4 linked regions of the Homo sapiens genome follow. The protein of the gene in region 1 purifies or fractionates together with the protein of each later gene. This does not show direct contact. Each region holds a gene or a part of one and is shown in the gene's direction. Other genes may lie near its edges. The genes, in order: ITGA3, TSPAN5, TSPAN14 and OSTM1.

The links.
Region 2: the proteins of ITGA3 (region 1) and TSPAN5 purify together in Homo sapiens (co-immunoprecipitation; one large-scale study listed by IntAct). This does not show direct contact.
Region 3: the proteins of ITGA3 (region 1) and TSPAN14 purify together in Homo sapiens (co-immunoprecipitation; one large-scale study listed by IntAct). This does not show direct contact.
Region 4: the proteins of ITGA3 (region 1) and OSTM1 fractionate together in Homo sapiens (co-fractionation; one large-scale study listed by BioGRID). This does not show direct contact.

Annotation. Positions count from the first base shown.
Region 1 is NC_000017.11:50,059,110-50,062,609, forward strand, and holds part of ITGA3 (integrin alpha-3 preproprotein), read left to right. Parts: intron 1-3,500.
Region 2 is NC_000004.12:98,648,979-98,656,790, reverse strand, and holds part of TSPAN5 (tetraspanin-5), read left to right. Parts: intron 1-7,812. UniProt on the Homo sapiens protein: Part of TspanC8 subgroup, composed of 6 members that interact with the transmembrane metalloprotease ADAM10.
Region 3 is NC_000010.11:80,458,141-80,465,952, forward strand, and holds part of TSPAN14 (tetraspanin-14), read left to right. Parts: intron 1-1,144; exon of another isoform or gene 1,145-1,444; intron 1,445-4,947; exon of another isoform or gene 4,948-4,987; intron 4,988-7,812. UniProt on the Homo sapiens protein: Part of TspanC8 subgroup, composed of 6 members that interact with the transmembrane metalloprotease ADAM10.
Region 4 is NC_000006.12:108,052,162-108,059,973, reverse strand, and holds part of OSTM1 (osteopetrosis-associated transmembrane protein 1 precursor), read left to right. Parts: intron 1-5,386; coding exon 5,387-5,484; intron 5,485-7,812. UniProt on the Homo sapiens protein: Required for osteoclast and melanocyte maturation and function.

The DNA of each region.
Region 1 (3,500 bases):
ACAACATAGGGGGCTAGCCCCAACCCAGGGCCCAGTCTCCTAGTCTGTGGAAATGAGGGGTAAGGAGCAGGCAGAGGACCAAAGTGCTCTGGGCTTCTTGGCAAGATGCATGAGGGGTTCCTTGGAGGGACAGGGACTGTTCTCTGGGAGGTGGTTACTGACACCCTCTCTGCTCCAGCACCTGCACTGACATTCCCTCCTGGGAATCCAGGCATTCTGGTCTGGCCTGACCCTGTGGGCCTATGGGGATACTGCCGGTCCTTCTCTCTCTTTCACTTTTGCTTGGAAATGAGGGTATCTGGGAAGCCCAGGGCAGGGTGGCTCCTAGAAATGAGGTCATGCCTGAGGTACGCAGGAGCCAGGCTCACCTGCCATGCTCTCCTAACATCATGTTTCCCTGGGCAAAGCAGGTGCCTGGCAGCCTTCAAGGTTCGTGCCAGCAGAAATGGGCACAGCAGCTGTGGCTGGAGGCAGAAGGCCTGCTCGTGTAGTATCTTTTTCCTCTGGCTCTACCCAGTGACCAGTCTAGGCCAAGAGGCTTTCAACTGGGCAGGAGTAGGGGAAGCCTGATCTTGTAGAAAAAGCAGCAGCGAAGGGGGCTTGGTCAGAAGTAAACAAAGAAGGAAGAAGATCCCCTTTGCAGTAAGAGGAATTGAGGTTAGATGACACTTAGAATGCCCTCGGGGGTCAAATACAGGAAAAATACTGAAGAGCCAAGGAAAGGGAGCAGAACTGAGAAAAATGGCCTTGTTCTTTTTTTATCTGAGGCTTAGCCAGGGCTCTTTTTCCTGTCCTTTCTCATTCTCTCTCTCCCTCCAGCTTGTTGCTCTGGTTCTAGGGCTGAGTCACCAGTGGGGAGAGGGGGCTGGGTGGGCAGCAAGGGAAGGGTCAGGAAGGATGGGGAGGGCTGCAGTTTCAGCTGCCACAGGGCCGGCCTCTGGGGAGATGGCTAATTCGGGCAGCAAGGCTGGCATAGAGCTGGGATCCAGGCATCCCAGAGCTGCCCCCACCCCTTCTCTGGGGCTCAGAGGTGGAGCAGGCACCCTCCCCACCTGCCTCCCGGCCGGGGATAGGAGGGGAACACAGGAGGCTAGGTACCCAAGGAGTGAGGCCCTGCCATGTTGGCCTGAGTGCTAGATCCTTTGGCCCCCTCTGGAATCCTCCCATGGAGCCACCAAGTGCCTCCCTGAGGTGACAGAATCTGGGAAGGTGAATCTTACAGGCTGCTTCTCTGAGCATTACCCCACCCCAGTGCCCCCAGGGGCCTTCTCCTCTTTGAGGTGAGCCAACCTGGTACCCTGAATTCTCCTGGGTACTGTGCCGCGCCCTTCTTTGATTCTTCTGCTTTCTCCTTGGCTGTTCCATTAGCTCTGAACTGCCCCAAGGGGAGTGATAGGGCAGGGGTAAGGAAGGGCTTTTTCGGAACTTGGAGCTCAAGGGGCTCCGCAGAGGCCAAGAGGGGCTGTTTGGCTGGAGCCAATGGGAGGGTGAGGAGGCAGCTGTTGGAAAGCCCTTGAGTAGTCACTTCACCCATCCCACTCCATCTGGGGGGCTGGGGGTCTCTGCTCCCCCCAGTCCAGCCTGACTCCAGGAGAGGGGCAGTCCCATCTCCTATCTTCCTTGCTCTAAGAGCTCCATCTAGGCATCCCTCCACCTACTCTCCCTCCTTCTGGCTGCAGCTGAGGGGATGGGTTCAGTACTGCTCTGGAAGGGGTCAGCTTTTGGATTTTGTGATCTGGACCAGACCTAAAAGCAGGTGGCTGGCAGAATTGCTCATTTGTGTACTAATTTGCATTTCATTTGCATACAGTAAGGTCCCTCTCACCTTCAGGATTCTCCAACCCCCTCCGCACACACCTGGGTGTGTGTGGCTGGAGGAAGCTGGAACCACCCTCTGCACACCCGCCTTCCCCCATCCATGTGCAGGCCTCTGGCTGTAGACCCATTGGATCCTGGGCTGGGAGCCAGAGGGCCTTAAAGGGCCTCTGAGTGGGCCAAGTGGAAGCTAAAAATACTCTGGGGGGGTGAAGCGGGGGCTCACTCTGGAATCTCTGAGGAGGGAGGGGCCTGGGATGTAGGGCTGGGATTAGGGCACTGGCCCTGCCCTGCCCTCTATCAGTAGGCATAAGGCTGGTTCCAGGCAACAGGCAGGAGGGTATTGGTGGTAAGGGGAAGTATTTCAATCTGATTGACATGCGTGCCCAGCTCTGCCTGCTCAGTACCTTGGGAAGTTCAGAGGAGGGAGTCCCTTAGCCCCTTCCTGGCTGAGTTGAGGGGGCTGGGAGGGCATGGAGACCCTTTTGCTCAGCTGCCTCCTGTATGACAACATGGGCAGGGCAGCAGCAGCAACAAGGGGGCAACACTTCCATTACAGGCGTGCCCAAGGCCCGGCCTCCCACTGAGGCCCGGACCCCTTAGTGTCACTGTAGAAAATTCCCAACCTCCACCTCCAGCCAGATCTGAGCCCCCGCTGTAGAGTGACTCTAGCTGCCAGCGCTCCCACCCTGACCCCAGTGATCACCTGGTATCCTCAAGCCATGGAAGTCTTCCTATGTCTCCCTGCTGATCTCTCTAAACCACCAAAGGAGTCTCTTCTTTTCCCTCTGCTCCAGGTTCCCTAACATGCCAGGGCAGAAATTCCTGGGTCCAGCCAGGCACGGTGGCTCACGCTTGTAATCCCAGTAACTTGGGAGGCCGAGGCGGGTGGATCACCTGAGGTCAGGAGTTCGACATCAGCCTGGCCAATATGGCGAAACCCCATCTCTAGTACAAATACAAAAATTAGCTGGGCGTGGTGGTGCATGCCTGTAATCCCAGCTACTTGGGAGGCTGAGTCAGGAGAATCACTTGCACCCGGGAGGCGGAGGTGGCAGTGAGCCGAGGTTGTGCCACTGCACTCCAGCCTGGGTGACAGAGCAAGACCCTGTCTCAAAAAAAAAAAAAAAAAGAAAGAAAAAAAGAAATTCCTGGGTCCCTGGAGGGAGGGCTGGAGGCATGCTAGACCAGTCCTGATGCCACAACAAATCGGAACAACAATGCTCACATTAGCTATGGCTTCATATCAGAACACCTTTTTGTAGAATAGACCTATTTGTTCCTCTAGCAACCCTGGAGGTCAGCAGGAGAGGGGCTGCCCCCATTTTACAGATGGGGCACTCAGGGCTCAGAGAAGGAAAGGAAATTGCCCCTTCAGGCAGAACAAACCCTAGACCCAGGTCCGTGGGTTCTCAGGCTGAGATGCTCCTTTCCCGCAGGCTGTGGGTCCCTTCTCTCATCTGTCAGGCACGCCAGAGAGCGGATGTCCATGGGTGGTCAGGCAGTGGACTCATCGAGGCCTTCCCAGCCCAGAGAGAAGTGACTCTCCAGGCCTGGCTGCCACCCTGGCCCCCTGCCAGCCTCCCTGGCCAGGAAGCTTCACCCCTTCTCCCAGGAACACTTCCCCAGGGTGAGGTCTGAGCTGTTGTCTTGAAGTATAGGCAAGGTCCCACCCCCTTCCCAGC
Region 2 (7,812 bases), on another chromosome or scaffold:
CTTGCATTGGTCATGTATGTTTTGTGAGGGGAAATGCAAGGGATTGGAGACCACTTTCCGTGTCAGCATGTCATCTGTCTTCAGGACTAATAAAGATAATGAGGGGACACATGAATGGATGTCATATCCGATCATTCCACAGGCAGTTTTTTGCCAGTGTTGTGCATGATTCCCGGGAGCAGTCACCCACCTCCCTGCAATTAAACACTGCTACAAGTACAGGAAGAAGGAATTATTTTCTTTCTTTGCCCCTTCTCCATTTGTGAAAATGTTTAAAAGTGGTGGGTAGCCACGGTTTTGAGTAAGATATTCTGATTTGATTGGAACTTGAAACTTTGTGACTTGGAGAGGCACGGACTACCGAACTGGGACTGGTTCTTTTTGGGGTAGTGAGTTCAGGCCTCTTGTTTCTACTTGAACATTTCTAAAAGTTGCACATTTTAGCTACCCAGCAACAAAAAGCACCCAGGGACTTTCTCTGCCGTTTCCTAGCAGGGGGTGGTAAGGAAATAAAAGGATTTGGGTCTGTTTCCCTGACAGTTTGCTGTAATTCTGTGGAGTGCATAGAGACAAATTTAGCCCTTTCTATGGATTAGGTTGCAGCAAAACCCCTGGAATTGTAGAGAGCTTCAAAGAATTGCAGAGTGCTTGCTTGGAGAGGTCCAGAACAGAGCCGCATGTTTTCTGATTGTGAAGGTCTTCATAGGTGGGTGGGTGAGTATGGGAAGCCTGAAAGGAGACCTAGGCTATGGGACTAAACTAGCTGCCCCAGGCAGAATTGTTAAGTGAGTGCCTTCCTTATGAGGGCCCTTCACTTACCCTGCCTCTTGCCTTCCCTTCCTCTCCTCTCTGTGCCCAAAGCCTTCCTCTCAGATACTCCCTCATACCTTTCCTATCCTGCTCTCTGCCTCAAAATTACCCCATATTTAAATTTCCTGCTTTATTGTACCATGGTCTCTAGTGATGATCAACAGAAAGGCAACCATATGGTTTTGGTTAAAGTAATTCAGACTAAGATGTTAGTGACTGAAAAGCTGGGGTCAGTAGCTTGGCAGCTTGCTTCTGAAAAGTTACACACCTCTGCTCTCTACAGAGTCACCAACCTGTCTGTGATTGCCAAAAACAGCAGACTCGGTGCTACTCCCATACAATTATGAAGAAGAGATTGCCAACAGCATGGTTTCCTAATTTTCATTTTCACACTGAACTGCTAGACTACATTTGACATACACTGGTGACATTCAAAGGTATAGTTCTGGTAAAATAAAATTGAACATATGGTGGCACCAGCACTGAGAGCTTGGTTCTTTTCCTGATCAGCAGTTTGGCTCTTCATCAGTTAACTGCCTGGGCCTCAGTTTCTCAGCTGTTAAATTGAAGGAGGTGGATGAGTTATAACGTTCTTTCTAGTTCTTACACAGAATGAGTTTCTTGAGTTCCAATATGCTGGAGAAGAAAAATAGAAGAGTTTGGCCACTAATTTATAACAGAAGTAGTATATACCAGGACACGTGATAAATTATAGACATTTTCTGTTAGGGAGACTTGTCTGAAGACTAGTTTTATTACTTTCATTTCTTCCTCAAAGATCCTTTCATAAAAAACAAACAAACAAAAAACAAAAAACAAAAACAAAAAAAAACCAAGGCTGGGCGCGGTGGCTCACGCCTGCGATCCCAGCACTTTGGGAGGCTGAGGTGGACGGATCACAAGTTCAGGAAATCAAGACCATCCTGGCCAACATGGTGAAACTCTGTCCCTACTGAAATACAAAAAACTAGCCAGGTGTGTTGGCGGGTGCCTGTAGTCCCAGCTACTCGGGAGGCTGAGGCAGGGGAATCACTTGAACCCGGGAGGTGGAGATTGCAGTGAGGCAAGATCACACCACTGTACTCCAGCCTGGCAACAGAGCAAGACTCCGTCTCAAAAAAAACAAAACAAAGCAAAACAAAAAACCTTTCACTAATTTCTTCTTGGCTTGTTCAGTTCCTGGTATAGTGTCCGTGCTTCTCTCTCCCCACTGTGAATCTCAAATGTAGTCCTGTGAGTCATTAAATATATTTTTATTATTAGAATTACAGCTTCATGTATAAAATCTGAATCCTTTTATATAACAGTTGTAATGACATTCTGAGTAACAAAGTCAACATCTTGTACAGATTCCTTTCTCATTAGTTATCACAGGCTGGTGGGGGAAAACTTGTTTCCTCTGTTATATATTGGAACAATTCAAGACAGAAGGGAATTGATTTTATTGAGGGTGTCACCGTACTGGGACATTTCTCAGAAAACCCTGAGACTGCTTTGGGTTTGGGGGAGGGAGAAGAAAGAGGATTTTGTTTTAAAGTCATTTCTTTGGGGTACCGAACACCACATCCCATCACTCATCATTAATAGATGTTTTGCCCTTTTGGATTCTGGCTTTTAACTGTTTTGGATTCTGGATACTTAACTGTTCCCAGGCAAGTAAATTGATCTCAATATTCTGGTTATTTATTGCTACATAACCTCCAAGCTTAGTTGTTTAAAACACAGTTGTTTATTATTATAGTTCACAGTTCTGTGATTTGGCCAGGCTCATCTGGACAGTTCTCACTTGGGGTCTCATACAGTTGTGGTGAGATGTAGTTGGAGTTGGACTTACCGGAAGGCCCTCTGGGCAGGATGCCTGAGATGGTATACTCATATGACTGGAAGCTGATGCTTGCTGGGAGCTTAGCCAGAGTTGTCACTGGAGCACCTACCTACACGTGGCTTCTTCCTGTCTCTAAGTCTTAAAGAAGCTTCCAGCCAGTTAAGGTTCCACTTAGAACTGGCAGTGCCACTTTTATCTATTCCATTGGTTAGAGCACTCATGCAGACTGCTGAATTTCAAAGGGTGAAGAATTAGAAGCCACCTTTTGATGGAGAAGTGTCAAGGTCACATTGCAGAAAGTCATGTAGGTTGTGGCCATCTTTGAAAAATATAGTCTACTGTATTAAGGCACTGAGCCTTAATTTCTTGTTTATAAAGGAAAGATAACATTAATGGTGTTGTAGTTTTAAAGATTCAGTGAGATAATGTTTTATTCGGCATAATATCTCAATATTTAACAAATAGTGAATATCATTACTGTTGTTGTCTCCAGATTTTATACTGGTTCCATACAGGGCTATAGAACTTCTAGAATGCCTTAGTCTAGTACTTTGGCATCATTACTACTAGGTAATGATAATACCCTTAAGATCTGCCAAGAAGATGAGGCAAATGGATTCAATAGATTTTATAGTGACTTGTTAGGAAAGAACTCAATGGAAACGGTGGAATGATTTGGGAGAACCAAGTCATTTTTCTGTTTTCTTTGCTACAAAGGATTAGAAAAGCCTCAGTTACTTGAGGCCAACTTTCTCTTTTGATATGCTTTCAGATATTACCTTGTGTCTTTAAGTGCAAGTTTATCCAGGGTTGATGGCAGGATCTTGCCTCTAATTTGCTTCCACAGGGCTTAATTCAGAGAGGAGGGAGACTCAGGAAACCTTGGGGCGGTGGGGGAGGGGGGGCATCAAGTAGGAAGCTTTATCTTATGATTCACTATAAATTGCAAGATGTTCTGGAATGATGATACATCAGCAGTTTATAAGTCATAATTTTTGTTTTAATTTGCTAGACATCTGTTAGCTTCGATGGCAACCATATGGGAATCTAAATTGCGTTTTGAATTACAGGGAGATGGTAGGAAGAAAGCTAAATATGGTTATGAAAGTGTCATATGGGAAAAGTGTAAGAAAGGTATAAAGTGGGGAAAGTAATTGAATATAGGCTTGCTTAGTGTGGCCACTCCCTCTGTGGGGCAGTATGAAGGCGCAGAAGCATTCTCACTTGATATACTCCGCAGATTGAAATGAAGCCAAGTGGGGAGAAGTTGGAAAACCAAATCATGTTTCAACCACCATAAACTTGCCAAAATGTTGCACTCATTTAGATGGGTCACTTTGTTTTAATGTCCACAGTAATAGGTAGTCCCTGGCAAAAGGTGAAAGCAATCTGCATTTTTAACAGAACTTTTCACTAATGATGTTTTTCTTGTAAGCACCCCAAAGAGTCTTCCAAGAATATTATATCTTTGTGACAGATGAAGAAATTGGAGTACAGAGATGTGGAGTAACTTTTGAGGTGTTGAAGAGCATGTCAAGGTTCAGTTTCAGAGTGTTAAGTCTCTTCCGTAATGATAGCCCCAGCTTTTTGGGTGGAGACTTATTTTAGAAGATGCTTGTTATTCTAAAATAAAACATCAAGTAAGTCATTTACATCTGTTCATAATCGAAAAGTGATAAAGTTTTTGCATATGCCACAATTAACACCACCCACAAGCACAAAAAAGTTAGGATGAAAATGTTCTTCAAGAATATGGTGGAATAATTGTAGCCTATTGAAAATTCATAAATGAAAATTGGAGTATTGTAGACAGCATTCTTGAATCACATGTTTGTTTCTGTGTGTAATACTGATGACTGTCTTAAAATTTCTAACTTCCAAATAAATCATACTCCACTGGATTATAAGGGCTTCAAGTGTGGGGGCTGTCTCACTTTCATAAGCCCAGTGTCTTGCGCATTGTCTGAAACACAGTAGATGTTTTGATAAACGTTTGGGCCAGGCTTGGGGGCTTACACCTGTAATCCCAACACTTTAGGAGGCTGAGGCTGGAGGATGGCTTGTGCCCAAGAGTTTGAGACCAGCCTGGGTAACATAGTGAGACCCTATCTCTACAAAAAAAAATTAAAAATTAAAAATTAGCTGGGTGTGGTGATGCGTGCCTGTAGTCCCAGCCACTTGGGAGGCTGAGGTGGGAGGATCACTTGAGCCTGGGAGGTTGAGGCTGCAACTGCACTCCAGGGTGACAGAACAAGACCCTGTCTCAAAAAAAAAAAAAAAAAAAAAAAAAAGTATGTTGAAGGAAAGAATTACAAAATCATCAGAAAGTACGTAGGAATCATCTCCTCTAACTTCCTAGTCAGTGAAGCATTCTCCATTGTATCGTGCCTACCTTTCTAAGCATGGATCTGTTTTTGGACCACTTTAATTGTAGAGTTTCATCTGTTCAAACTAGATGTTATCTGTCTCCCCATCATTTCCATCCTCCTAATTTACTGTTCATTTAAAATTTTTATTTGGAAACATTAAACCAATAGGAAAATTGCAAGTAGTATAGAGAACCTGTTTTTATCCTGTTTGAGACAAAGTTGCCAGCATGTTGGCTATCACACAAACAGTTGAGTATGTATTTTCTGTAAACTGGACTATTCTCCTAGATCACCACAGTACAACCATGAAAGCCAGGAAATTACCAATGATACATTAACACCATTTAATCCTTAGATTTCATCCAAGTTTCCCAGTTGCTCCCATAATGTTTTAAAGCAAAAGAATTCAGGTCAGAACCACACTTTGTATTTAGTTACATGTTTTTAGTCTCTTTCAGTCCTTCACTATCATGCTCTTGATACTTTTGACAATTATAAGCCAGTTATTTTGCAGAATGTCCCTCAGTTTGTGTTTGTGCCATTTTCACAAGCTTAGATTCAGGCTGTGCATCTTTGGTAGGAATAGTACAGAAATGGTGCTGCGTTCTCATTGTACCCTATCAGGGTGGCATTGATTTCTGTTTGTCCCATTACTGATGATGGTCACTTGATCAAGGTGTTGTCTGCCAGGCTTCTCTACCATATAGTTACTCTTTTCTCATTTGTAATTTATAAATGTTTTATGGCAAATTACATTGAAACCATGTAAATAGCCTATTCCTCATCAAATTTTCAATCTGTTATTTATTTATATCAGTAAGAACTTAGTGTCTTCCTTTTTTCAGTGTGGTTTAATGTTACTGTCATTACTTTATTTAAAATGGCCCTAGGTTTGGCCAGTGCAGTCTTTTCACATTGGCTCCTGTGCTCTTTTAACTCCCATCAGTCTTTGAGCACCATCTTGCTCTCTGGCAGAATAAGATGTTCCAAACTCATTTTGTGATTTACCTGTGTCATCTTTTGTATCAGACATTTCTCCAAGGAGCTATTGAATGGAGAATGGAATTTAGAAGCCAAGATCTGGTTGCTTGGTGTGCTCATTGCTATTAGGGTGTTGCTACTCTGTGTATATACAGACACACATGTACATCTGTAATTCTGTATCTATGTACTTTTAAAACCATGAGTTTACAGTCATACCTTAAATTCCTGTCTGATACCACAGGGTTTAGTTTTTCCTCTCCATATTTTATAACTGCTTTATTTGACAGTGAGATTCTTGGTTCGCATTATTCTTAACAGTTTACTTATTTGGTAAATCTCCCCATATGTAACCAATCTTCTGCAGCTGCCACCACCTTTCCTCCTGGGGCTGCCCTCCTCAGCTGTTAGTGCTCTAGCATCCTGTGCCACCACCCCCATCCCCATATGGATACCTTTCTCCCTGAGATACCCTGCTCTGGGCTTCCACAGCATCCCTCTTCCTACGTTTTTGTAAACGTAGGAAGCCTACCAGATTGGACCTACCTAATGGCTTTGAATTTTCAGGAAGGAGAAGGCGAAGAGCCTCGGCTACTCTTGAATGATGTAAAATAAGACTTATCTTCCTTCCCCATGGTCCTTCATTATTTAAAAATAGCCATTATGTCATTCCTAAACATTCTGTTTTCCACCTTTAAAAGCTCCTAGTTCCTCCATGTGTTTACACTAATGATGTTTTTCTTGTAAGCATCTCAAAGAGTCTTCCAAACATATTATATCTTTGTGACAGATGAAGAAATTGGAGTACAGAGATGTGGAGTAACTTTTGAGATGTTGAAGAGCATGTCAGGGTTCGGTTTTAGAGTGTTAGGTCTACATATACTGTTTCCAGATTGTTCTTTGCCCTGGTCACGGTGCTCTGCCTAGGGTCCCATTTGGACACACCTCTATTAATGCAGCAACCAGAATGAAACACGTTGTTCACAGGCTTTTCTAACCATCCGAAGAGCAGCAGGCTCTTGAACTCTCCCTTCAGTCCCTAGGCTGTGCTGTGCCTGGTGGCAGAAGCCTCTGCTACTGTCTGGAATTGACTTTGAGTAAGTTACTTTCACAGATTAGTTCCTCAGTTGCTCATCTAAAAAAACCAGGAAAATAATTTTCTGCAAAGTTGTTATCCAGTATTATGTGAGATCATGCATATCAACGTGCTTCATAAATGGTAAATCTCTAAATACAAATACTAGTTATTAACCCAGGCTAAACTGCACTTGCTTTCCCTGGCAGCCAACGAACACTTTGGCTTGGATTGACTTTTTAGTGAAATAAAACCTTCACTTTTTCAAGTGAACTCTATTAAACCATCCCCCTAAGCTATATGCTAATCAGAAGCCCTAACCCTCCAGTTAATTATTTGAATTTAGATTTAGTTCTGTTTATTTCTCCCATTTAAATGTCTTATTCTGGCCCATTGGATTTCAAACCTGCTACCAGCAATCCTAGGCCTCCTTGAGGCGTATGTGGGTGGGTGGGTCTGTGCTGGTGGGGTGTGGACTGAGCAGTACCTCTCTTTCCTCCAGAAAAGCTTGGTTATTAGTTTGATATTTTGGGATACTAAGAAAGATTTTGCTTGAAAAAAGGGGTCCCACCACTTAAGAAAGAAAAGAACCAGTATTCTAGCCTTTAGATGTCTTTGAATCTTGATGGCCAAAGTACATTTTTAAAAAAATTACTCCTCGTGTGGGTTTTTATCTCTTGGAATCTCTCCATGCATGGGAAGTCCCTCTCACTAACTAGGGGTCACTTCTGTAGGATTAGTTGATATTTCAC
Region 3 (7,812 bases), on another chromosome or scaffold:
AGCAGGTAGCGATACCCAGGCAGGCCTGGTCCTCCCCACTTTTGTGGGACTCGGGGATTGAGCTTGCAGGCATAGGGGTGTAGAAAGCAGTGGTAGCGAGGTGACTGAAGGTGGACTCCCACTGGGGATGGGATTGAGTGTGGGGCTAGATCCCTGGTCTGTAGAAGGGAGTAGGAACCCTGTTAGTTAAATTTTCCCCCTCAGGCCACGTTAGTAGGATTTTGAAGAGTCAGCCACACTGTGGCTCTTGATTTTGTGCCTGGTCACCTGCTTGGTCTCTGGTGATTTCCCTCGGGGCCAGCAGACACTGTTGGAGGTGGTGAGGCCTCAGGTTCTTCTGCTTCATGGTTAACTCACTCTGCTTAGGCATATTTCCACCTTTTCCAGGGCCTCCGTTTTTCTGCCAGTGGATTGAGAGGTGGTGGTGGTCTCCAGCAGTGGTCTCACTCTTGGCAGGCTATCAGAGTACCCAGGGAGCTGCGTAGAATGAAGTTTTGAGAGTCTTTGGTCTAGGTGAATGCCAGCGTTTCAGTTTGCTTATCTTCCATTATAGTAGTGTCCTCTGTAACTGTGAATCAGGGAGGTTATTCATAATATCTCCACATCCATTTTCTCCCTTAATTGCGTATGCTTTTGATTTAGACAGGGCAAGTAGCCATTTTGGTGGAGCGCAGGCCCTGGCAGGGGGGCAGTGTCCAGTGCCGCTCTCAATTAAACGTGAAGATGTGAAGATGAATAACACTGTCCAGCTTGCAGAGTGGACGGTGGTGAGGCAAGCTTTCAAGTTGCACCTACTTTCTAGTTGAGTGACCTACACAAGTCTTTGATTTTTTTTTTTTTTCTTCCTGGAAAAAAAAAGTTGTCTACTTTTCTCATCTGTAAAGTGAGAAGAATCAAGTCTGCCTTTTCTGTCTCACGGGGTTGCAGTGAAGCATTAGTACCCTGAGAAGCAAGATCCAAAGCCCCTGAGTTAGGCCTGACACTGGTGTGAGACAGCTGCCATCTCTGGCGGCACTCAGCAAGTGTTCACCAGCAGCTGATTCTGGGAACCTCACTTCCTCCGCCCTTGGGCTTGGTGGGGTTGGGTAGGGTTGGGTGGGGCTGTGGTTTTCTTTTAGGAGGCAGCAGGCCAGGCCTGGAGACCAGAGCTTAAGTGGGCCTGGGCAGGCTGGGGTTGAAACTCTTCACCCCTTGCGGTCTGTACTGCCTCCCAACTGAGCAGCCAGGGAGAAGGCCTAGAGCCTGTGCCTTTCAGCTAGATAGCTGGAGGAACTGGCTCCTCCCTCCTTAGGCTGTGCTGGCCTGAGCTGGGAGCCTGAGAGCTGGGGCAGTTGTCTCTAAAGTGGCTTCTGGGATTCTGGTAAGAGGTGAGCTCCTGGTGCTGCCTCAGAGTCTTTGTGTTTCCTGGCATTTGGGAGAGCTGGAGTTGGGCTGTCCTGCATGGGTAAGGTTTGGGGAGGGACTGGAACAAGGGGCTAGTGAACCTTCTCTGGGTTTTTCCTGCCTGACTATGCGTTGACAGTCCCAGCTGTTGGGCCTGTGCTCCTGTACACTGCACGGCCTTGAGAGGAGTTCGGAGCCCTAACATCCAGGAGAGAGGCCCCACAGCAGTGGAAGGAAATGGGCCTCTCCCGAATCTCTTGTTTGTACCCCGAGGTCTGAGTGGTGATCCTGGGGATGCTATGGGACTCTCAGCAGTAGGAGTGTGTCTGTCCCCAGTCTGGGTGCCCACCAGCTGTGCTGAGGGTCCTCTCCTGTGTCCCTGGGCCAGGCAGACAGGGTCTTTTTCTGGGGCTTGTTAGGGGAGGTCAGCCACAGCCCCAGACCAAGTAATTTACACACCCTGAGTGAGGGGTGGGAGCAGTGGGTCCAGGAAGACTTAGGGAGCTGGTGAAAGAAAAACTTAATTCTGACACTTGTTAAACTGGTAAGGTAGACTGTATCAGGACTATTACGATAGATGTAGGAATTATCGCAATGGATTTTGCAGTAGAGGGGAGAGAGTGGGCCAACTCCAAATACAACAAAGAAAAGTGGGAACTTATAGCCAAGGAGCGGAGTGTGGGGGCTCCTGAAAATTTCTAAGAGGGTAGGGAAATTTTTACTAAACTTAGCTAACTGAATTCTTGCTGCAGGCAGGCCAGGGTGATCAGGTTTTACCTGGGAGATAGTACAGGATGAGAAATACGTTCAGATATCCAGGGTGATTAGATATTGAGGTTGGGGGATTCTGGTTAACAGGAGTTTTGCTAAAACTAGGCTCTTAGAGAGAATGGAGTTAGGAACCCTAGGTCAGGACCAGATGAGTAGAGGGCTCAGAGGAATAAAGTTTGGTGAGGGACAGAATCTCTGTCAGTATCCCGTGGTTGGCAGTGTCCTGTCCATTCTTCTTGCACTGGCCTGTCCCTCAGGAGACAGGTGTGAGTGGTCCTGAGCTTGGGCCAGTGTAAGAGTAGGGGACAGGTTTCTCTCCTTGTAGGTGTCCCTTCTTGTAAGTGTCACTCTCTTTTTTTCCAGAAACCTTGGTCCTTTTCAGCATCTGCTGGCCCCTTGTCCCTTGGCTCCCTTGCTCTTGGCCTGCTGGATTTCCCCTCTGCACCCAGGAAATCGCATGGACCTGGGTCCTTGTTTCCCTACAGCCCACCAATTTTGCTGCTTTTTTCTGCCCCCTGAAGCTGAGCTCCTGCTGCAATTTGTGTTCCCTGCTCTCCCTGTCCTGGGCAAACCAGTCTGACAACTTTGTGGTTCTCGCTCCCGCCTCCATCAGCCTGGGGATTGACTGTCCCATTTGTCTGAGCTGGGCAGAGGGAGGTGCTGTGGGGGATCTCTTCCTCTTGCCTGGACTGCACACTCCTGCTGCCTTCTAGCCGGAGCTCCTGGGCATTTTGCCTATGGGAGCTTCACCAGCTTCCTTCTGTCTGAGGCCTACAAGTCCCTGCCTCCAGCCTACCTTGTTCCTCCTCCATGAGTGAGGCTCCTCCTTTTCTCTCTGGCCCTCCTGTCTACTTGATCAGACTCTGCCTCTCTTGAGGGCCGGCTCCCTCCAGCCTACCCTGCACAGGTGACCCTGTTTGGCCTGCCTCCTTTTCTTGAGGCTGATCTTGTCTCAACAGTCAGCTTTTCAGGAACCAGGCCCTTGCTGTTGTAAGGAAAACCTGTCGGCTGTGGATGGGGCCTTCCCTCCTTCCTAAAGGCTCTGTAGCCAGCTTCCACCCTTGCAGTGGAACAGTGGTGGTGCCAGAACCCTGCTCTCTGCAGCCATCCTGCCTACCACAGTCATTGTGTTTTGTAACTCTAGTAGCTTCTTGTGAAATACAAGTGATGGTATAAACGTGGATAGGTTTTTGAGGGGGGCATGCCAAAATCAGAGTTGGTGGTAGTGGTGGGGGATTCATTCCCAAGGGCTCTGGGGTGCTAAGTGTGTGAGCAAAGAGGAACAAGTGGCATGTGCCCAGGATGGGGTGGGGCGGGCAGGTTTAGTTGAGGGCTCCTCTGGTGTAGGGTAGCCCTGACGCTCCCCTCCATGGCATGACTGATGAGGTGGCAAAGGCAGGTGCCAGGATTTGGTGTGTTGAAGATTAGTGCCTGGGTTGGGCTCTGCTCACTCCTGCAGAAAGACGGTTGGAGAGGGGCTGGTCTTGGTTTCACAGAGGATTGTGGGATTACAGGCAAGACCTGCTGAGGGCTTGCACTGAGCCACCGAGAGGAGCAGAAAGAGATACGAGGGCTTCAGGTGCCAGTATGGTTCTCACTGTTGTGAGATCTCATTTGTGCCTTTTTTTTTTTTCCTTCAGACAGGGTCTCACTCTGTTGCCCAGGCTGGAGTGCAGTGGCCCTATCACAGCTCACTGAGGCCTCCACCTTCCTGGCTCAAGTGATCCTCCCGCCTCAGCCTCCTGAGTAGCAGGGACCACAGGCATGCAGCACCACACCCAGCTAATTTAAAGAATTTTTTGTAGAGATTGGATCTTGCTATGTTGCCTAGGCTGGTGTCAAACTCCTGGGCACTTGATTTGTGCTTCTTAATTCAGGGGCTACTTATTGAACATATTTAGCAGTCTTCAGAAAGCATCTTATTCTGTAAGGGGAACCAAATATACCCATTCCCCCTCTCTGGCCTTCTTTCCCTGTGGTCTGGGCGGTCTTTGAGCTTGAGGTCATTAGGAGGTGTTTATTTCTGTCCGCCCTGGTGGCCTAGGGCGTAGGAATGGGGTGGGATGGGATGGGATGGGGTGGGGTGGGGTGGAGGAGTTATTCTACATAGATAGAGTTCTGTTTATGCAGCACTCCCTGCCATACACATCTCTCACTCAAATGGTCTGGCCAGTCCTGGTTCTAATGGTCATTGTGTCATTCCCCTCAGCAGCAGGAAAGGCTGGAATGGTTTTTGTATTGTTCCTTAGGGGGAAAAATCACTTGGAGGAAGTATATCAGTGCTTCTGAGTGCAGAGTATTTATTGACACGTCAGTTAAAGGAAGCTTTTAAACAACATATATGTATCTCTTTAGTGAGGAATAAATCTACAAGTGCATCTCACAGCTCCATTTTGCAGCTTCCATTTCCTGGAAGGTACATGGAGTTTAGTGGTTAGGGAATGGGGTTTTGAGCTGGGATTTTGGAGAAACTGTTTTTAGCCTGTCCTTGGAATTGGGCCAGGCCTAGAAATCTGTTGAAATAGCTTTCTTTAGTTGCTGAAACTGGGATGTGTTCATAGCACTAGGACCTCGAGCTCCACTGATGACTGAGTGGGGAGGGCTCAGAGAAGGGTCCCTGTGGATGCCCGGGATGCCTGGGTTTCAGTCCCGTCTCCTGCATCGCCTACATTGCCTGAATCTTAGGGTCTTACAGATTTATCATGAAGTGGGCTTGGCAGCAGATGGTCTGGTTTCTTTTGTGCCTTTGTCAGAATCTGTTCTTGCTCTTCTTAGGAAAACTTTCTATTTCAGGACTTGGGGTGGAGTCGAAAGCAGGGAGCCCTGTGAGTTGGTGAGTCTGTATCCCTGAGGCTGCCACTGCCTGACCCCCTCCTTCCCCTTGTTTCGTTTCCCCTCCCCATTACTCTGCCTTGTTCTAGGGAAACACCAGAAGCTGCCTGCAGACAGCTACGGGTAAAATTGTGTGTCCAGCCACAAACTTTAGGCATTTTAAATATTAATTTAGGTTTAACATTTTTATTTACAAAAATGTATACATGATGAAAAACACATAACAAAGATACACGGTGAAAACTCCTATTTCTATCCCTGACCCCTTCAGTTCTGCTCCCCTGAGGCCGCTGTCACCAGATGTTCAGTGCCTAGTCAAGCATGACTGTATTCCTCTCTTGTTTATTACCCCAGTGGTATACTAATTATGCTGTTTTGCACTTCCTGATTTTTACTCTGAGAATTTATCCCAGGATTGTTCCATTTTAGCACACATAGTTTAGTCCATTCTTTTTAACAGCAGTGCATGATTCTGCTGCACAGTGAATGATGACTCACTTTACCAGCTCTCTATTGATGGATTTTGAGGTTGCTTTCAGTGTTTTGTTTCTATAGGCTAAGCTGCAGGAGTGTCTTATGCATGCTGCAGGTCTGTAGTGGAAATGACTAGATGTGGAGTTACTGCATTAGGTGTGTAAAAGGAAAAGAAACATGCGGCTTTGATTCCGAAAGGGGGAATGAAAGTTTACAAAGTTTTCTTTTGGAGGGATCTTGGCCTTCTACAGAGACAAGAGCTGGAGAAACTACTGGGAAGGCATGAGAGGTGCCAGCGTGTTGGTTCCCACCCAAGTCCATCTTTGGTTCAGTTCAGGCCAGCCTGTCTCCGTGACCTCCATATTTACAGCCCTTGGCTGGCCCTCTGGCTCATGCAGCCTGTGCCCCTAAAAGTGTGAGGAGTCAGCCAGAGCGAGTTGGGGTGTAGGGAGGCGGGGAGCAGGCTTCTCATAGTGGGTTCCAGCAACCTCACGACTTTGCAGGACCTATGTGGGGTGTGAAGGGGGAGCGTTGGTTGCAGCAAGCTGGAGCTGGCGTCAGCTTTTAGAGGAGCAGATTTTCCCGCAGTGTCAGGGGTTGGTGTGAGGATCGGCCTCCTTCTCTGGCCTCCCTTGGCCTTTCGCTGCTCTGCACACCTCCCTGTTCAGGCCGCCTTGGGCCTGGTTGCCACCCTGTGATTTTAAAAGCCTGTGTAAAAGGCACCTGGTGAAAATAATAGATGGGTTTTGTGTTTTGAGCGGGAGCTTCCTTTCAGAACAGAAATGGGGTACGGTTCTTCCTGGGATGGGTGGGGAAGGAGGGACAGTCGTGAGAGCATGTTGGAGGTGCCCACTCTGTGTTGGGAGCTCTCTGGTTGTTTCCCTGTGTGGCTTTCACTGCCCCATGCCAGGGCAGGGTGGGAAGCAGGGAGACTTTAGGGCTGGCTGGCAGATAGACCTCCTAAATAGACCCTGACCTGGTGGGTTTGAGGCTTGTGTCCCTGCCATGGCTCTCCCACCCTTCTACTCAGAGAACTTCTCACCATTGCGGTTACATGCAGTCCCCGTGAGAAGGCCAGAGCTTCCCATGTGCAGCTCATTGTCTGGGCCTGGGTCCTTGGTAGCACAGAGGTTTCTATTGTGGCCTGGTGGCAGTGAGGGCTGACCTGTGGAGCTGAGGAGGCGGGACCTGGGGCCTCACAGTGGAGCTATTCAGGGGCTCTGCCCTGGTTTCCTGCTGCTTCCCATTGTAGATTTTTTTGGGGGAAGGGTGGGAGGGAACTAGAGAAGGAGGAGAGTGGGAGAGGGAGTGGTCAGTGCAACTATTGTTGCTGGTAGCAGGAGCCCTTTATGCTTAATAGAGGTCCATTTGCAGACAGCCTTGAGCCACTCCAAGGCCCATCATGTGTTCTCAGATTCTAGTTTCTGCCTCTGTCAAGATCCCCCTTCGCCCTTCTCAAGTCCCTGTGCTTGCCTGGAACACCTCTGGGTAAGAGTTCTGAGCAGCTGGGCAAGGAGCAGGAGTGGCCGGTGCCAGGCTTGTCGGCCACCTGCCCACTGCTTTGGGGAGTGAGTTCTGCCGAGTCTTCCCGGCCCAGCTGTGCCCTTGGGTGGGGGCCAGGCACGTGCCTGGGTTGCTATTAGTCTCCCAGGCCCCCCACTTGCTTTGTGCCTCAGTGCTCAGCCCAGTGCTCCCGTTCCTCACGCGAGCACTCAGCTGCTGAAAAGCCTGTGTGCTGGCAGCTCAGCCTGCAGCCACCCCCGCTGCAGGAGCCACAGCCATTTTCCTTTGTTCTGCCATCTCCGGGCTCTTGAATCTCAGGCTGGCAGTGGGCAGCAGGCAGCCAGCACACAGCGCTGGTGGGGTGGAAACCCTTGTGACATGAATCTGCCCACTGAGCCAAAGGCATGGCAGCCCCCTGGCTGCACCCCTAATTCCTCTGGCTGTACCCCTATCTCCCAGCCATGCTGAGAGAAGCACAGAGTATCCCCTCTTACTGGATCAGAAAGATAGTGACACCTACAGTGGGAACAGAGAGAGGTCTCACCTGTTTTGGGCCACTGAGGTGCACACTAAAGAGAGAGAGAGTTAGCCTCCGGGTCTTTGGCAGAAAAAGCCACTCTCAGGCACAAAGGATGCTCGTTCTTAATCTCCTGGTCTTTGTTGAAAACAGAGGCAGGATTGGTTAAGAATATTTTTTATTTTGGTCCTTATGGTTGTGAGGACCTTTCTCTAACTGAGGGGAACTGTACCCTGCTTCTTCACATCTGAATCTCTCCCTTCTCTCCCCCACCACTTTTTGGTGGGCAAAATGAGCATTCTCTTTTGGGGTACAATTTCAGCTATGTGTGG
Region 4 (7,812 bases), on another chromosome or scaffold:
TATATAGAAATTTAAAAAATTTAACAGAATGTTCAAATCTGTGATGAGTATTTGTATGTTAGATGTGGTTAGAGAGATTAGCTATTTCATTTTCCAGAATTACGCATTAAAAATTATCATCATTCATCATCCCATTTATGTGGCAGAAAAGTGGAAGAGTAAATCCCATTTGTGAAGAAGGAACCCTCATGACCTAGTCACTTCCTAAAGGCCTCACTTCTTGATATTATTGTATTGGCCATCAAGTTTCAACATATCAATTTTGGGAGACACATTCAGACCATAACAGGGGCTATTAGAATTTTTGTAAAATAATATTATTAAATAACAGAAAAAAATGTAAAAACATGAAAGGTAAAATATTACTAGAAAGAATATTATTAAAATGAGTATACTGCCCAAAACTATCTTTCTGTTCTGCTTAATTTAGCTTGAAATAGGGGTGGCATCTAGTCTCTGCAGTTATTATTCATGAAAGGAAGGCTAGGAATCCAAGAGAGGAGAGAATGCCATCCATGTACTACTCCCATCCCTTTTCTTCTCAGAATTCCTGTGTCTTCAAATGGTATTAGTCTTGGTAGGAATCTGGTTATTGGAAATTGATGGAAGGTCAAAAGAAGTGTTAAGAGTGCAACTTTTTCTACTCATACTACAAATAACATGGAAACTAGCTGTTTCTGATGGAGAATGACTGCCAAAAAGTAAAGAGAGTATATTAAAGGTTTCTCAGAATTTTAAAGGTGTGTATTGTTGACATAGGGATAGCCTTGTTATTGAGACCCTTCTTGCTTATCTTGTGCATACAGCAGTTAAATAATCAGCAGAATGACCAGATTTGATGAGTTCATGACTGCTTTAGTGTTTTGGTTCTTTGGTAAGCAGTATCCAGTATGAAGCATTATTATAATGAGATAGGCCTCAAAATTATCAGTTCAGATATTTGTTCTTACACACTGAAAACTCTTTCTTTATGAGCAACCTATATCTTCAGTGATACAGGTGATCTGGGTGATAATTAATGAGCATAATGATGCTGTTGAACCACTGTGTAATCCCGATGTATATTCTGATTCATCAGAGGAAAACTAACTTTCAGTTAACACATACAATGTATGTCTTGATGCTTTAAAAAGCAACAACAATAGTACTTAATGATTAACCAGAAGGTCAATTAACCAAAACATTTTTTTTTTTTTAAGACGGAGTCTTGCTCTGTCACCCAGGCCGGAGTGCAGTGGTGCGATCTCAGTTCACTGCAAGCTCCGCCTCCCAGGTTCACGCCATTCTCCTGCCTCAGCCTCCTGAGTAGCTGGGACTACAGGTGCCCACCACCACGCCCGGCTAACTTTTTTTGTATTTTTAGTTGAGACGGGGTTTCACCGTGGTCTCGATCTCCTGACCTCGTGATCCACCTGCCTCGGCCTCCCAAAGTGCTGGGATTACAGGCGTGAGCCACTGCGCCCGGCCCAAAACCTTTCTTTCCCATATTTTATCCAGAGGGAAATGTACTAAGCGTTATAATCATATTATTTGTATCTTATAATTTAAAGTATCTTAGTTTTCATATTTGTTAAACTTAATTAGGTCATTTAGGTACAAAGTTGCCGTAGTTTATTTTTATTTTCTGAAGCTTACCCTAAATTGGTGATTATCTCTGCTATTTTCTATAAAACTAGTTTTGAAAAACAGCAAAGATCTTTGTAAAATTCCTAAGAGATGCCAAATGCTTTATTTAAAGATGCATAATTCCTGTTATGATAATTTAGTAGGTTTCTCTGTGAGGTCTTAACTTGAATCCTTAATACCTTTAAGAATGCCTCTTGAGGCCAGGCACATTGGAGGCTGCAATGAGCTGAGATTATGCCAGTGCACTCCAGCCTGGGTGACAGTGAGATTCTTCTGTCTCAGAAAAAAAAAAAAAAAAAAAAAGATTGACTCTTAAGCTGATGCCTGAGCCTTCTCTGAGAAAGCCACTCTGCTAATCTGCCCTTGATGAGGCTCCATTGATTATCTAAGATGAAGGAAATTCATAATGACCACTTCACTTAGTGCTTAAAGGAAGCTTTATTATTATTAATATTCTTTAACTCACCAATTTCTAAAACATACAGCTTCTCACTGTTTATAATCTTAAGCTCCCAATTCCTGCAAAAAGATAAAAAAGGAATTTACTAGAGATCTGTTATTTCGATTCAGAAAGTCATGGCTTTTTAATAATGAAGACTTTTTAACCCCATTATATAAATGAACTGCTTTATGCTTTATGTTACCACCATCTAATGATCATTGAAAAAGTTTTGATGGTAATGCATTAATGTAATTATTAATAAAAGAAATTAAGTTCTTTTGTTCTTCAGAGAAGCTTTCTTTATAAATTGCTTTTGCAAAAGAAATTATTTGTTTTAATTAGGTATCTTGCATAGAAGAAATTTGCTATTGCTCTCTCATGATAATGCACTTTATACTACTTTTGCTGGCAGTATGTGGACCCCTTTTATCCCTATATTGTTATGTCAGTTGTCACGACATAGCTCATTATAACACAGATGTACAACTGTTGTGAATGAAATTGTGTTCCCTTAACTTCCCTGCAACACATCAACTACAAAAACTATATAATTGTTTTTGTAAACATGTACAAAAACTATGTAATTGTTTGTTTTTATTTATATCAACTCTGCCTCATCCCTAAAAGGATTGCGGGCTACTTCATGATGATATTAAACTAGCATTAAGAGGGGCAATGAGACAAGTTCTTACTCTTTCATGCAGGTTGGAATGCAGTGGCGCAATCACAGCTTATTGCAGCCTCGACCTCCCCAAGCTGAAGCAATTCTCCCCTCTCAGCCTCCCAAGCCGCTGGGACCACAGATGCACGCCACCATGCCTGGCTAATTTTGTATTATTTGTAGAGACAGGTTTTCACCATGTTGCCCAGGCTGGTCTCGAACTCCTGGACTCAGGCAATCCACCTGCCTCCCAAAATGCTGGGATTACAGGTGTGAACCACCATGCTGGCCTATTTTTATATCAATGGCTTATTAACTTGTGGTATGATCATCAGCATATCACCTATTTCTGTGGCTTAGTTTCCTAATTTGTAGTGATCCCTCAGATTTTTTAAATAAGGGTGAGAAGTTAGAATGAGATTCATGTTCTGGAGAAGATAAAGCTTCAGAGAATGTAGAGTATGTGAGTTCAGAGAGGGGACAACTCCTGAAATAGGTTTACCAAGAGGATCCTGTGTACAATGGGTGCAGAAGGAGCCCTGCACAAGGGGGCTGTACAAGGAGGTGAATGGGGCTGAATTCCAGCTTAGCTTCTGGAGGCAGGAATGACCTTTTGTAATTTATCTACCCAGAGGGAATATCTTTTTCTGATTTGCACAAAGGAGCTTTACTGTGCTGTCTGCCCCTGTCTACCAGGTTTAGGTTTCATCTCAGTTGCTAACTCTGATCAGTTGGTGGGGACTGCCTGAATCCCTGTATGGTGTAAGATATCTATGGGTAGTGGAGGGAGTAGGCAGTGGCATGTATTTGTAGATTCCGAGTCTTGAACTTTTAATGGTTTAGAATGTAGATATAAATATGTTTATTTTGCAGTGTTTGAGAGTGCAGGCTCAAGAATCAGACTGAGTACAGAGTCTAGCTTTTTACTTACCAGTTTTATGTCCTTGGGCAACTTCCTTAATTTATCTAAACCTATCTCTGTTCCTTATTTATAAAATGGAGATAATGATAATTTTTCCCTCATGGAATCACTGCAAGAATTAAATGGGCAAATGTGTTTAAAGTGCAGTGTAAGCATAGTTCTTAGAACATAGCAAGTATTTAGTAAGTGTTAACTTTCGTTGTAGTAATTGTTGTCTGTCAGAGTACATGGATGTCCCTTAGTGTGTCATATCCTAGTGTCTACCTAGTCCGTCTCTCTTTTCTCCACAAATTCTACTTGCCTTGCTGCCTTTCTCCTGGGTAATTGCAATAGCTTTGCATGTTGTCTTTCCACTTCCAGTTGAGAGAGATCCTATCTGATGGCCCTGAATTTCTAAATAAGGTGGGCATAATACAAAGCCATCTGTTGAAATTAAGGGGAACAAGAGTAGGGCTGGGACTAGAGATGAGAAAATATGTGGAACATCCCTTGCAGAGCAATTAGGAGGGCATCTACAAGGATCATTTTGTTGCCCCGAGATCAGAACACATGAATTTGAATTGAGTCCCTTCATTATCATTTTAGAATTTCTGTAGTAGTATTCTGTAACCAGACTGAGAGTACAGAAAGTAGATGGGGACTGTCCAGGGATGAAAATGGCTGTGAATATGTGGAAGATAAAGAGGGCAAGGATTCTAGGAGAGTCAGATGGAAACGACTGACCACAAGTTCCAAGATCTGGAACCAGGCAGTTGAACCTCGATTGGAGATAGCAGGCTGAGAACACAAGGAGAGGTAAAGACAAAGGTTTACCTGAGGATAAAGACTAGGTTCCCTGGCTGAGCGCAGTGGCTCATGCCTTTAAGTAATCCCAGCACTTTGGAAGGTTGAGGTGGGAACATCACTTGCGCCCAGGAGTTCAAGTCTGCAATGAGCTGGCAAATTGTGCCACTGCACTCCAGCCTGGGCAACCGAGCAAGACCCCGTTTCTTAAAAAAAAAAAGAAGAATAGATTATTCCCTGAAGAAGGGAAAATGGATACATAAATTGTGATATACACATACATAGAAAATAAAAGGGATGAGTGAACTTGAGCTAACTCTAAGCAAGAATAGCCAGTTGCAGAGAAATACCATTTATGTAGGATTTTTAAAAATGTAAAACAATTTTGTTTCTAGACTTTACTTGAAGCCCCCACGTCAGTATTTTAGGCAAAATTCTCACCAGTTTGTTTCTCTGGGCTCCCAACTCGTGATGGATTAGAAAGAGCGAATTTTAAAAGTTACCCCATTAGGTACAATAAATGACTCATTAGTGAAGTTGGAAGATGCAGAGAACTATGAAATTTGACACAAAAAATGATAAGGCATATGAGTTTCGGTAAAATTAATGCAGGGTAAACAGTCTTATGCCTAAATAGCACTGTTAAGGCAGCATTTGATAGCTGATATTCCGTGATTATGACCTTGTGCCATCAAAAGTCCATTTGAATTTTATTTGGTATATTTTTATGAAAAGAGAGTATGTGATTATTTTAACATGTTCATGAAAATGGTTATGACTTTTTTAACTTTTGGAAAATAAAAGGAGTAAGCTTCATATATTTGGAAAATTCATGCTTGTTTGAATAAAGAATTACTGTAGTGTGAAACGAAGCTGATAGCTTAAGATATAAATGACAACATAGAATTGTTCCTTGAGTTATATTAATATACTTTTTGAATTTTTTTGACAGATTGTTTAACAAACAACAGTGAAGAATTATCAAACAGCACAGTATATTTCCTTAATCTATTTAATCACACCCTGACCTGCTTTGAACATAACCTTCAGGTATTTTATATATAATATTTAAAATTAAAATGCTGCCTTGTACAAAGGAATAATGTGCAGTTCCAAGTTTTTAGAGCACTAATTATTGATATTTATCTAAATTCATGATGTAAAGGAGTTAGTGGACCTGGATTTCTGCTCTTAAGTAAGTTCTTCTACTTACAAATCATGAAAACCTCAGTTCTCTCATTGTAAAATGGAGATAATATCTATCCTGCCTATCTTAAAGTATTTTGTAATGAGAATCTGGTGAGATAATGATTGTGAAAACATTGATTGAGGTGTGTGATTGTTTAATTAAAACACAATGGTTTTCAATCTGACTTACGTAGGTATTTTGCAGTGTAGTATGATTCTGTCTATAGGAAGTTTATTCTTTGCCTGAAATTTGCTTAAGTATGTTTTACCTACCTTAAAAAGCACTGTTTAGTAAGATAACTTTGAGTATTGAATTATGATAATAAAAGGTAGCTTTAAGAATCTTAACCTTGTAGATTATTGCCATCTCTATCTCTGACTCTTGAATTTTGGTATTGGAACTTGCCCGGTCGTGGTGAAGGACGAGGTTGGAACTCTGGTTAAAATGTAGTTTTGAAACTTACATAACAAGTAAGTAATCCCCATAGTAGATGTACACATGCTTAGGGTATAAGCATGTATGATTTCTTCTGTAATAAATGTGGTAACACTGAATTATGAATTTCCTTGAGAATAATAAAAATTGGGCCAGGTGCAGTATCTCATGCCTATAATCCCAGCACCTTGGGAGGCCAAGGCAGGCAGGTCACTTGAGGTCAGGAGTTCGAGATCAACCTGGCCAATATGGTGAAACCCTGTCTCTACTAAAAATACAAAACTTAGCCAGGCTTGGTGGTGCACGCCTGTAGTGAAGTAGAGGTTGCAGTGAGTTGAGATCGTGCCATTGCACTCCAGCCTGGGCGTTGCAGAGAGACTCTGTCTCAAAAAAATAAAATAAAAAAAATTAGGTGAACATTTCTCAGAATTTGTTCTGCAGCATGTTAATAGATGTCCTATCAGAAAGGGTTTAGTATTCCATTAAGGTTGGGAAATGCTTTACTACAGGACTTCAGAGCCTTTAGTGGACTGATGTGTGTTGTAACACTCAAATAGCAATTTTTCTATAAAGTCATCCCTTTTATATATGGCTTCACTTTCCACAGTTTCAGTTACCTGTGGCCAACTGCAGTCCAAAAATATTAAATGGAAAATTCTGGAAATAATAAGTTTTAAATTGTACACCATAAACAGTCTTCTTTTCATTTAACTTAGAGTACTTGTATGAGTTTGGTAGATTTCTAGAAGTAGAATTACTATATTGGCAGCCTAAGAAAAAGACACTAGAGAAAATTATCTCCAAATATGATGAGTTTATTAGGGAATAAGAAAGAAGTATGGTAATTTGGAATGCACTGGCAAACCACCAGTACATCCAGTGAGGGAAGGGTAAAGGGAAGCTTTTATTAGCAAAAAGGGAGAGGTTCACACAAGCTGCTTGGAAACTGAGTTCATTGGTTCCTGAGGCTCAAAGCCAAGTTGTCAGTTCATTGGTGGCGATGCCATTACTGGGCAAGTGTTCTTTTGAGTGCATCTTATCTGAATTACTGCAGTCCTAAAGAATGGCAGTGATAAACCATGTGAAAGCAGGAGTTGCAATGAAGGGCGTGAAAGGATTTCTTGTGGGGTTTTTAGAAAGTCTTTGGAAACAAGGACTCTTTTTGTCTCTATTTTGTCTTGGTCTGTCAAAAGGTGATTTCATCCTAATGTCTGCAACTTTCACATTATTAAAAGATATGTGCATTTTAAATTTGAATAAAAATTGTGGCCAGGTATGGTGGCACCTGCCTGTAATCCCAGCACTTTGGAAGGTTGAGGTGGGAGGATCATTTGAGCCCAGGAGTTAGAAATTAGCCTGGGCAAAATAGCAAGACCGTGTCTCAAAAAAAAAAAAAAAAAAAAAGGTTAAATTACTCCCCATCTAGATTATGTGCACAATTTTAGTTAAATGGATTATGTGCTCAATTTTTTTTTTTTTTTTTGAGACGGAGTCTCGCTCTGTCACCCGGGCTAGAGTGCAGTGGCGCGATCTCGGCTCACTGCAAGCTCCGCCTCCCGGGTTCACGCCATTCTCCTGCCTCAGCCTCCCAAGTAGCTGGGACTACAGGTGCCCGCCACCACGCCCGGCTAAGTTTTGTATTTTTAGTAGAGATGGGGTTTCACCGTGTTAGCCAGGATGGTCTCGATCTCCTGACCTTGTGATCCGCCCACCTCGGCCTCCCAAAGTGCTGGGTTTACAGGTGTGAACCATCG